Homo sapiens: one gene and its partner. The protein of the gene in region 1 interacts with the protein of each later gene in a biochemical or structural test. Each region holds a gene or a part of one and is shown in the gene's direction. Other genes may lie near its edges. The genes, in order: TUBGCP2 and KIF14.

Region 1 (3,913 bases):
GTTCAGGGTCCCACAGCCTAGAAGTAGCCACGTCAGTGTCCAGACTGCATGGGGCTCCATGGCGCGTGCCCTGCTGGCCTTGTGCTTGAACTGTAGTTACCGTGAGCACCTCCTGGGTCAAAAGCATGTGTGTGAGCAACTCAGCACCATGCCTTCTTATCGCTCTCCTTCCATTTTCGGAGATACCCTGCCTGTGACCAGTATTTGATGTTCATCTACAGATAAACTGTCTTCCATCACACAGGATTAGAATCTCGGTGTCGAGTCCCGTGCTAATAATCGTTAGTGAATTAGCATATTGTGGGAGTATGTGCTGAGTCTTCTGTACTCTATTGTAGGGACCAGCCCCACAGGGTCGGTGGGTTTTTCTCCTCGTGTGCGGAGATGAGAGATTGTAAAAATAAAGACGCAAGACAAAGAGATAAAAGAAAAGACAGCGGGCCCGGGGAACCACTACCACCAAGACGCAGAGACCGGTAGTGGCCCCGAATGCCTGGCTGCGCTGTTATTTATTGGATACAAAGCAAAAGGGGCAGGGTAAAGAGTGTGAGTCATCTCCAATGATTGATAAGGTCATGTGTGTCATGTGTCCACCAGACATGGGGCCCTTCCCTGTTACGTAGCCGAGGCGGAGAGAGAGAGGACAGCTTATGTCATTATTTCTTCTATGTTCTTTTCAGAAAGATCAAAGACTTTAATACTTTCACTAATTTTGCTACTGCTATCTAGAGGGCGGAGCCAGGTGTACGGGATGGAACATGAGAGCAGACCAGGAGTGTGACCGCTGAAGCACAGCATCACAGGGAGACAGTCAGGCCTCCGGATAACTGCGGGCGGGCCTGACTGATGTCAGGCCCTCCACAAGAGTTGGAGGCGTAGAGTCTTCTCTAAACTCTCCGGGGAAAGGGAGACTCCCTTTCCCGGTCTGCTAAGTAGCGGGTGTTTTTCCTTGACACTGACACTACCGCTAGACCAAGGTCCGCTTGGCAAGGGGCATCTTCCCAGACGCTGGCATCACCGCTAGACCAAGGAGCCCTCTGGTGGCCCTGTCCGGGCATGACAGAAGGCTCACATTCTTGTCTTCTGGTCACTTCTCACTATGTCCCCTCAGCTCCTATCTCTGTATGGCCTGGTTTTTCCTAGGTTATGATTGTAGAGCAAGGATTATTATAATATTGGAATAAAGAGTAATTGCTACAAACTGATGATTAATGATATTCATATATAATCATATCTATGATCTAGATCTAGCATAACTCTTGTTGTTTTATATATTTTGTTACACTGGAACAGCTCGTGCCCTCGGTCTCTTGCCTCGGCACCTGGGTGGCTTGCCGCCCACACTCGATGTTTTGTTGAGCTCATCCTTGTCTCCCTGAAGCTGTCAGCAGAGTGGTTGTTTACCTTTTTTGGGTCATAGAGCCTTTGAGAATTTGTTGAAGGGTCATCTCCTCAGAAAATAAAAAGTTATTTTGCCCATAACTTTCAAGGGCTCATCTGTTACTGATTACTCATGGATACCGGCTTAAGAACCCTTGTGTAGATGAAATGTTTGTGAAGCATGTAAAGTTTGCTTATATTTGTTTTGTAATCTATAGCCAGTTGCCTTGCCTGTGTTTTTTGTTTTGTTTTGTTTTTTGTTGAGACAGGGTCTCCCTCTGTCGCCCAGGCTGGAGTGGCTCAAGCGATCCTCCCACCTCAGCCTCCCGAGTAGCTAAGACTACAGGCATATGCTACCATGCCCAGTTAATTTTTGTATTTTTTGTAGAGACAGAGTCTCACTGTGTTGCCCAGGCTGTCTTGACTCCTGGCCTCGAGTGACTCACCTGACTCAGCCTCCCAAAATGCTGGGATTCCAGGCGAGAGCCACTGCACACAGCCATGTGTTTGTCTTAATGGCCTTGTATCGGAACTCTTGGTGACAGAGGCTAATGAGCAGCCACTGGTGGGAGAGTAGGGGCGGCGCTCACCCTGCCCCCTGACCCAGGGGTGGGCTCACCCTACACCCTGACCCCACGCAGTGTTCTGCTGCCCACTTGGGTGTCTGTGACGCCTTCGATCTCATATGTGTTATATGTCTCCTGGTGAGCCCCTGGGGCAGCTGGAGCTGCAGTGGAACTTCACCTAGCTCAAACGTGTAGGGAACGTGTAGAAGTCCTACCAGAAGCGTCTCTGTCGGTAGCCACGCTTGGGCAAGAAAAGGAGATGTCACGGGTACCAGAGTGAAAAAGTAACGCAGAGCCGGCCAAGTGAATGGAGCTGCGGCTGAGCACCGCGGGCTCTGAGAACCAGTGTGGGCCTCTCCGGTAGAAGCTGGGATGTTACTGTGTGTGCCGGTAGCTGGCACAGTGTCAATGGCTTGGGCCTGCACAGAGCTCCCTGTGTAGACCCCACAGGCCTCACGTCTGGGACCAGAAAGCTCTGTCCCCAAGCCGAGGCGAGCAGCAGAGCATTCCCTGCTGGCCCAGACCCATGTGTGGAGGGAGGTGCAGGGGAAAGGGAACCTGGGTCTCAGGCCCCATTCATGCTGCCCACGGGGCTGGCTCCCGGAGCTGCGGAGGCCGCCTGGAAGCTGGAGGCAGGTGAATCCCAGGCCCACCCAGAGGACCCTCTGAGAGGCTGCTGGGGTGTCGGGGAGGGGCCCTAATCCCAGGCCCATGCAGAGGACCCTCTGAGAGGCTGCTGGAGTTCAGGGAGGGGCCCTAATCCCAGTCCCGTCCAGAGGACCCTCTGAGAGGCTGCTGGGGTGTTGGGCAGGGGCCCTAATCCCAGGCCCATGCAGAGGACCCTCTGAGAGGCTGCTGGGCTGTTGGGGGAGGGGCCCTAGGCCAGGCAGGCCAGGTGATAACTTGGTTTGTCAAAGCCTGACATTGGCCAGTCTTGAGTGTTTAAAAAAATGTTTTTTATTTCTACAGTTTGAATTTTATGAATAGCTGTCTTCTTACCTATAGGAGAACATATTGTGATGTTCGTGCCTCAGAGCTAAAACTATGAGTGAATTTCGGATTCACCATGACGTCAATGAACTGCTTAGCCTGCTGCGTGTCCACGGAGGAGATGGGGCTGAGGTCTACATTGACCTGCTTCAAAAGAACAGGACCCCGTACGTCACTACCACTGTCTCTGCTCACAGTGCCAAGGTGAGCACTGCCCTTGGTGTAGCGCTGTGCAGGGTGAGCACTGTTCCTGGGTCAGGGTGGTGCAGGGTGAGCCCACCCCTGGGTCAGGGTGCAGGGTGAGCGCCGTTCCTGGGTCAGGGTGGTACAGGGTGAGCACCATTCCTGGGTGAGGGTGCAGGGTGAGCCCACCCCTGGGTCAGGGTGCAGGATGAACACTGTTCCTGGATCAGGATGGTGCAGGGTGAACCCACCCCTCAGTCCATGTGCAGGATGAGCGTCGTCCCTGGGTCAGGGTGCATGATGAGCACCGCCCCTGGGTCAGGGTGCAGGGTGAGCGCCACCTCTGGTGCAGGGGGCAGGGTGAGCGCCACCTCTGGTGCAGGGTGCAGGGTGAGCGCCACCTCTGGTGCAGGGTGCAGGGTGAGCGCCACCTCTGGTGCAGGGCTGTGCGGGGTGCAGGGTGAGCGCCACCCCGGGGTCAGGATGGTGCAGGGTGAGCACTGCCCCTGGTGCAGGGCTGTGTACCGTGCAAGATGCAGGGTGAGTGCCCGTTCCTGGGTGGCCTCAATGGTACCGGCAACGATGGCAGACAGCACTTGGTCTGTGTGTGTGTTCAGCTCTGATTCTCCTGACTCCCCCCAGCAGCTCCTGTGATTCACCCCACTGTGCAGATGAGTAAATGGAGGCCTATGGAGAAAGCTGGGCCTAGAACCCTCCCTCTTCCCCACTCTGTCCCCTGCAGCCATGAGGTGGGAGAGTCCTGACATGTGCATTCCTGTGGATAAAAAGGGAGG
Region 2 (3,913 bases), on another chromosome or scaffold:
GCTGAGGCAGGAGAATCGCTTGAACCTGGGAGACGGACGTTGCGGTGAGCCAAGATCAAGCCATTGCACTCCAGCCTGGGCAACTAGAGCGAAACTCCGTCTCAAAAAAAAAAAATTTAATCTTAAGAGATCATTAATTAGCATGAGTTAATCATTTTTCTTTAAATCTTACATAATCCAGAAAGCTTCAAACGTGCCAGTTTTACTTCGACTCTTTCCACGTTTTCTTTCTGTTTGTCTCCCTCTGGTGGATTTAAAAAAATACTTGCTTTATTCTATTTATGAGCTTATTTTCCTTTTAAAATTGAAAAAGGTCTTTATGTCTTCTGTCATGTTTAATATATATTTCCAGTTACATTTTATTTTTATTATTTTGAATTATACATATGTTTAAAATTTTTATGTATTTGAGTTTGTCTGTCTTTTCTTTGACATATCTTGCTTTGTTTCTAAATTGAATGATCATTTTCCCATAGATGTGATAACTTTTTTTTTTTTTTTTCTTGAGACGGAGTTTCTCTCTTGTCCCCCAGGCTGGAGTGCAATGGCGCGATCTCGGCTCACTGCAACCTCCGCCTACCCGGTTCACGTGATTCTCCTGCCTCAGCCTCCTGAGTAACGGGGATTACAGGGGCCCGCCACCACGGCTGCCTAATTTTTGTATTTTTAGGAGAGACGGGGTTTCACCATGTTAGCCAGGCTGGTTTTAAACTCCTGACTGCAAGTGATCCGCCTGCCTTGGTCTCCCAAAGTGCTAAGATTACAGGCGTGAGCCACCGCACCTGGCCCTGATAAATATTATATTCTATTTTCTGATAGTTTCCTTATACCTTAATTTTAATTGAGTTTTAGAATGATTTTTAGAGTAAGATTTAGAATGAGTACTTTATCATCTGTTTGGTTGGTCTATATAATTGGAGCTACTTATGGTCTCTATCTCAGTGAATACTTCTTCAATATCTCTGTACTTTTTGCCTGTTTAAAAAACATTGTTGCTTTACAATATCTATTTATCTAGTCTTTCTCATTTATTTGGTTATTTTTCAGAATGTATTTGTAATATTTTTTCAGATTTCAAAATCTTATGGGGGCTGGGCGGCGCAGTGGCTCACGCCTGGCAGCTTACAAGGTCAGGAATTCGAGACCAGCCTGGCCAATATGGTGAAACCCCGTCTCTACTAAAAATACAAAAATTAGCTGGGCGTGGTGGTGCGCGCCTGTAATCCCAGCTACTCCAGAGGCTGAGGCAGGAGAATCGCTTGAACCAGGGAGGCGGAGGTTGCAGGGGCCACTGCACTCCAGCCTGGGCTGCAGAGCGAGACTCCGTCTCAAAAAAGAAAAAAAAAATTAAAAAAAGGGAACTTTTACTGAAACGGAGTTACATTGTACGGCGGCAAGAACCTTCAAGTTCTAGTTATGCCACTGCTAATTGTCTGATCTTTCACAAGTTTAACTCTAAACCTCAGTTCCTCATCTGTAAACGAGGGATAACATTAATATTTATCTCACAAGATTTTCAGGACTGTTTAAAAATTCATATAAGACATTTAGCATATTTCCTACGTGAACGCCTTGCATAGGAAACACTAGAAAAGTTAATTATTATGATTAACTTGGGGGCAAATATCCATTTACAATGTGAAGTCTTCGATGTAATGGCTTCTTTTAGATTAAAGACCGACAAGAGTGTCACTGTCATGCTTTTCGTTTGACACCCACTTCAACGAGGGGCCCGCTGCGCCCGCGACCGCCGCCCCTTCCTCTGGTCGGATTTAAAGGGGGCCAAGCTCCACGCTTTAGCAGAACCCGAGGAGGGGAGGGAGCGTTGCCTGGGAGATGAGGGTGGGGCGAGTCCAGCATTCAGAGACGGCTACCGGAGCCCAACCACCGGCACTTCCGGGGGGCGGGTGGAAGCAAAGGCGCGGCACCCGACGCGACGCCCAGCAGCCAATCAGAAGGCGGGGCGCCCATTCAAATTGCGGCCTTCTGGGGAGCCGGCGCTGGAGGTGGTGAGTGGCGTGGGGACTGTGTCGAGGGGGTCCCCAAGGTGCCGGACCCTGCGGAGGGGCGAAGTTTCGGCACTGGGGAGGGCGTGCGGACGCTTTCCCTACAGGCGACCACTGCTCTGCGGGCGGGTGGTCTTAGCTCCAGTCCCCCATTCAGTTCCTCAGCATTCCAGGTCGGCGGCGAAGGGGTCCCCGAACGAAGGGCGCAAGGCAGCGTCTCTGCTGGGACCGGGAAGCCGGACTTCAGGGCCTCTCGGCCCGTGGGCTTCTCCCCGAGTCTCCCCGAGTCGGTTGGCATTAAGAGGTAATTCTTAGTCATAGCCCCTGGTAATGACTAGCAGAGAAAGAACAGAATCACCGGATGTTTTGGTTTGGATTGTGCTTATTTTCCTTGTATTCCTTCCAGTCCTCTTTAAAATCTGATGGCGAAACTCCTCAAACAGAAACCGTATTGATTTGTGCAAATCGCAAATGGTTTTTAGTTGCAAGAGAATTTCCAGAATCTTCTTTTTGCCTTTAAATTCATTTCATAACAGGAAAATTCTGTATTTTGAGTTGAAACGTTGATGGGAGATGCTTATAAGCTGACGAATTTTTTTTGTAATGACTGTTATTTATGTAAAAATTTAAAAGCCTCATTTAAAAATGAACTTCCATTAATTTGTTCCTCGCTAGCAATAATCTTTGCAATAGTTTGAACCAGTGTCATTTTACAGGTTAGAACCCGGCATGCAAATTTAAAGTCTTGTTTACATCCTTGTAAGGAGTTGGATACAAAGCTGACTAAAAGCCAGGTCTCTTAGCTGTCACTGCTGTTCCCTTTCTTTAAAACGTTAATACCTGATAGATATTGTTGCTGTATATTTACATACACCTCTGTCTAATTTGTTGTCTTACTGCTAAAGGGCAGGTTGTCTGTTTATCTAATCTTGCATGGTTTTTCTCAACACAATTAATTTACAGTACTTATCGTACTTACTGCCTGTGGTACTTGGGAATAATCTGCCTCGTGACACCAATCAATTCAATCTTCTCTATAGGCATTCCTGTATTCAACATACATGGGCCGGACGCGGTGGCTCACGCCTGTAATCCCAGCACTTTGGGAGGCCGAGGCGGGCGGATCACAAGGTCAAGATATCGAGACCATCCTGGCCAACATGGTGAAACCCCGTCTCTACTAAAAATACAAAAATTAGCTGGGCATGGTGGTGGGCGCCTGTAGTCCCAGCTACTTGGGAGGCTAAGGCAGGAGATTTGCTTGAATACAGGAGGAGGAGGTTGCAGCAAGCCAAGGTCGTGCCACTGCACTCCAGCCTGGTGACAGAGCAAGACTCCATCTCAAAAAAAATATTTTTATAAAAATAAAATAAAATAAACCTTCTTATGGAACATTGGCAAAAAAAAAAAATACGTGTAGCAGGTATTTATAAAAATACTTTGCTCCACACTCTGATTTAGGTGCTAGGGTTTCCTTTAGTCCTTCCCATTCCCCACACTGGAAGTACTTGAAAATCTATGTTGGCATGCACTTTTTACATCTTCTAAGTCACTTGACACATTTGGCCTGATATATGGCTTATCAGTATATTTCTTCTAGACTAAAGAAATGGGAATTGTATTCTTGTCTTTGAAGTCTACAGTATCTATCAGAGGGCCTGGCACTAATGGAAACTTAGTCAATATTTGTTGAATAATGATGGTAAGTTCTCTGAGAGACTTGCCTGAAGTTGCTTGGAAGCAGTATCTGAGCTGCAGATTGTGATCTATTGTAATGTATGCCTCTGGGAATTTACTTACACAATGGGATGTTCTCTCTATATTTTTAAAGCTTGTTTGTAGTCTGTGTGATCTAAATCTTTTTTTTTTCTTTTAGTTTAGCAGATACTTTCAGAAATGGATACATA

The links.
Region 2: the proteins of TUBGCP2 (region 1) and KIF14 interact in a test that uses a peptide from one of them, tested with the Homo sapiens proteins (one study listed by BioGRID).

The regions. Positions count from the first base shown.
Region 1 is NC_000010.11:133,302,019-133,305,931, reverse strand, and holds part of TUBGCP2 (gamma-tubulin complex component 2), read left to right. Parts: intron 1-2,951; 5' UTR 2,952-2,990; coding exon 2,991-3,140; intron 3,141-3,913. UniProt on the Homo sapiens protein: Component of the gamma-tubulin ring complex (gTuRC) which mediates microtubule nucleation.
Region 2 is NC_000001.11:200,618,808-200,622,720, reverse strand, and holds the start of KIF14 (kinesin-like protein KIF14), read left to right. Parts: upstream 1-1,969; 5' UTR 1,970-2,310; exon of another isoform or gene 2,311-3,882; 5' UTR 3,883-3,913. UniProt on the Homo sapiens protein: Microtubule motor protein that binds to microtubules with high affinity through each tubulin heterodimer and has an ATPase activity. Plays a role in many processes like cell division, cytokinesis and also in cell proliferation and apoptosis.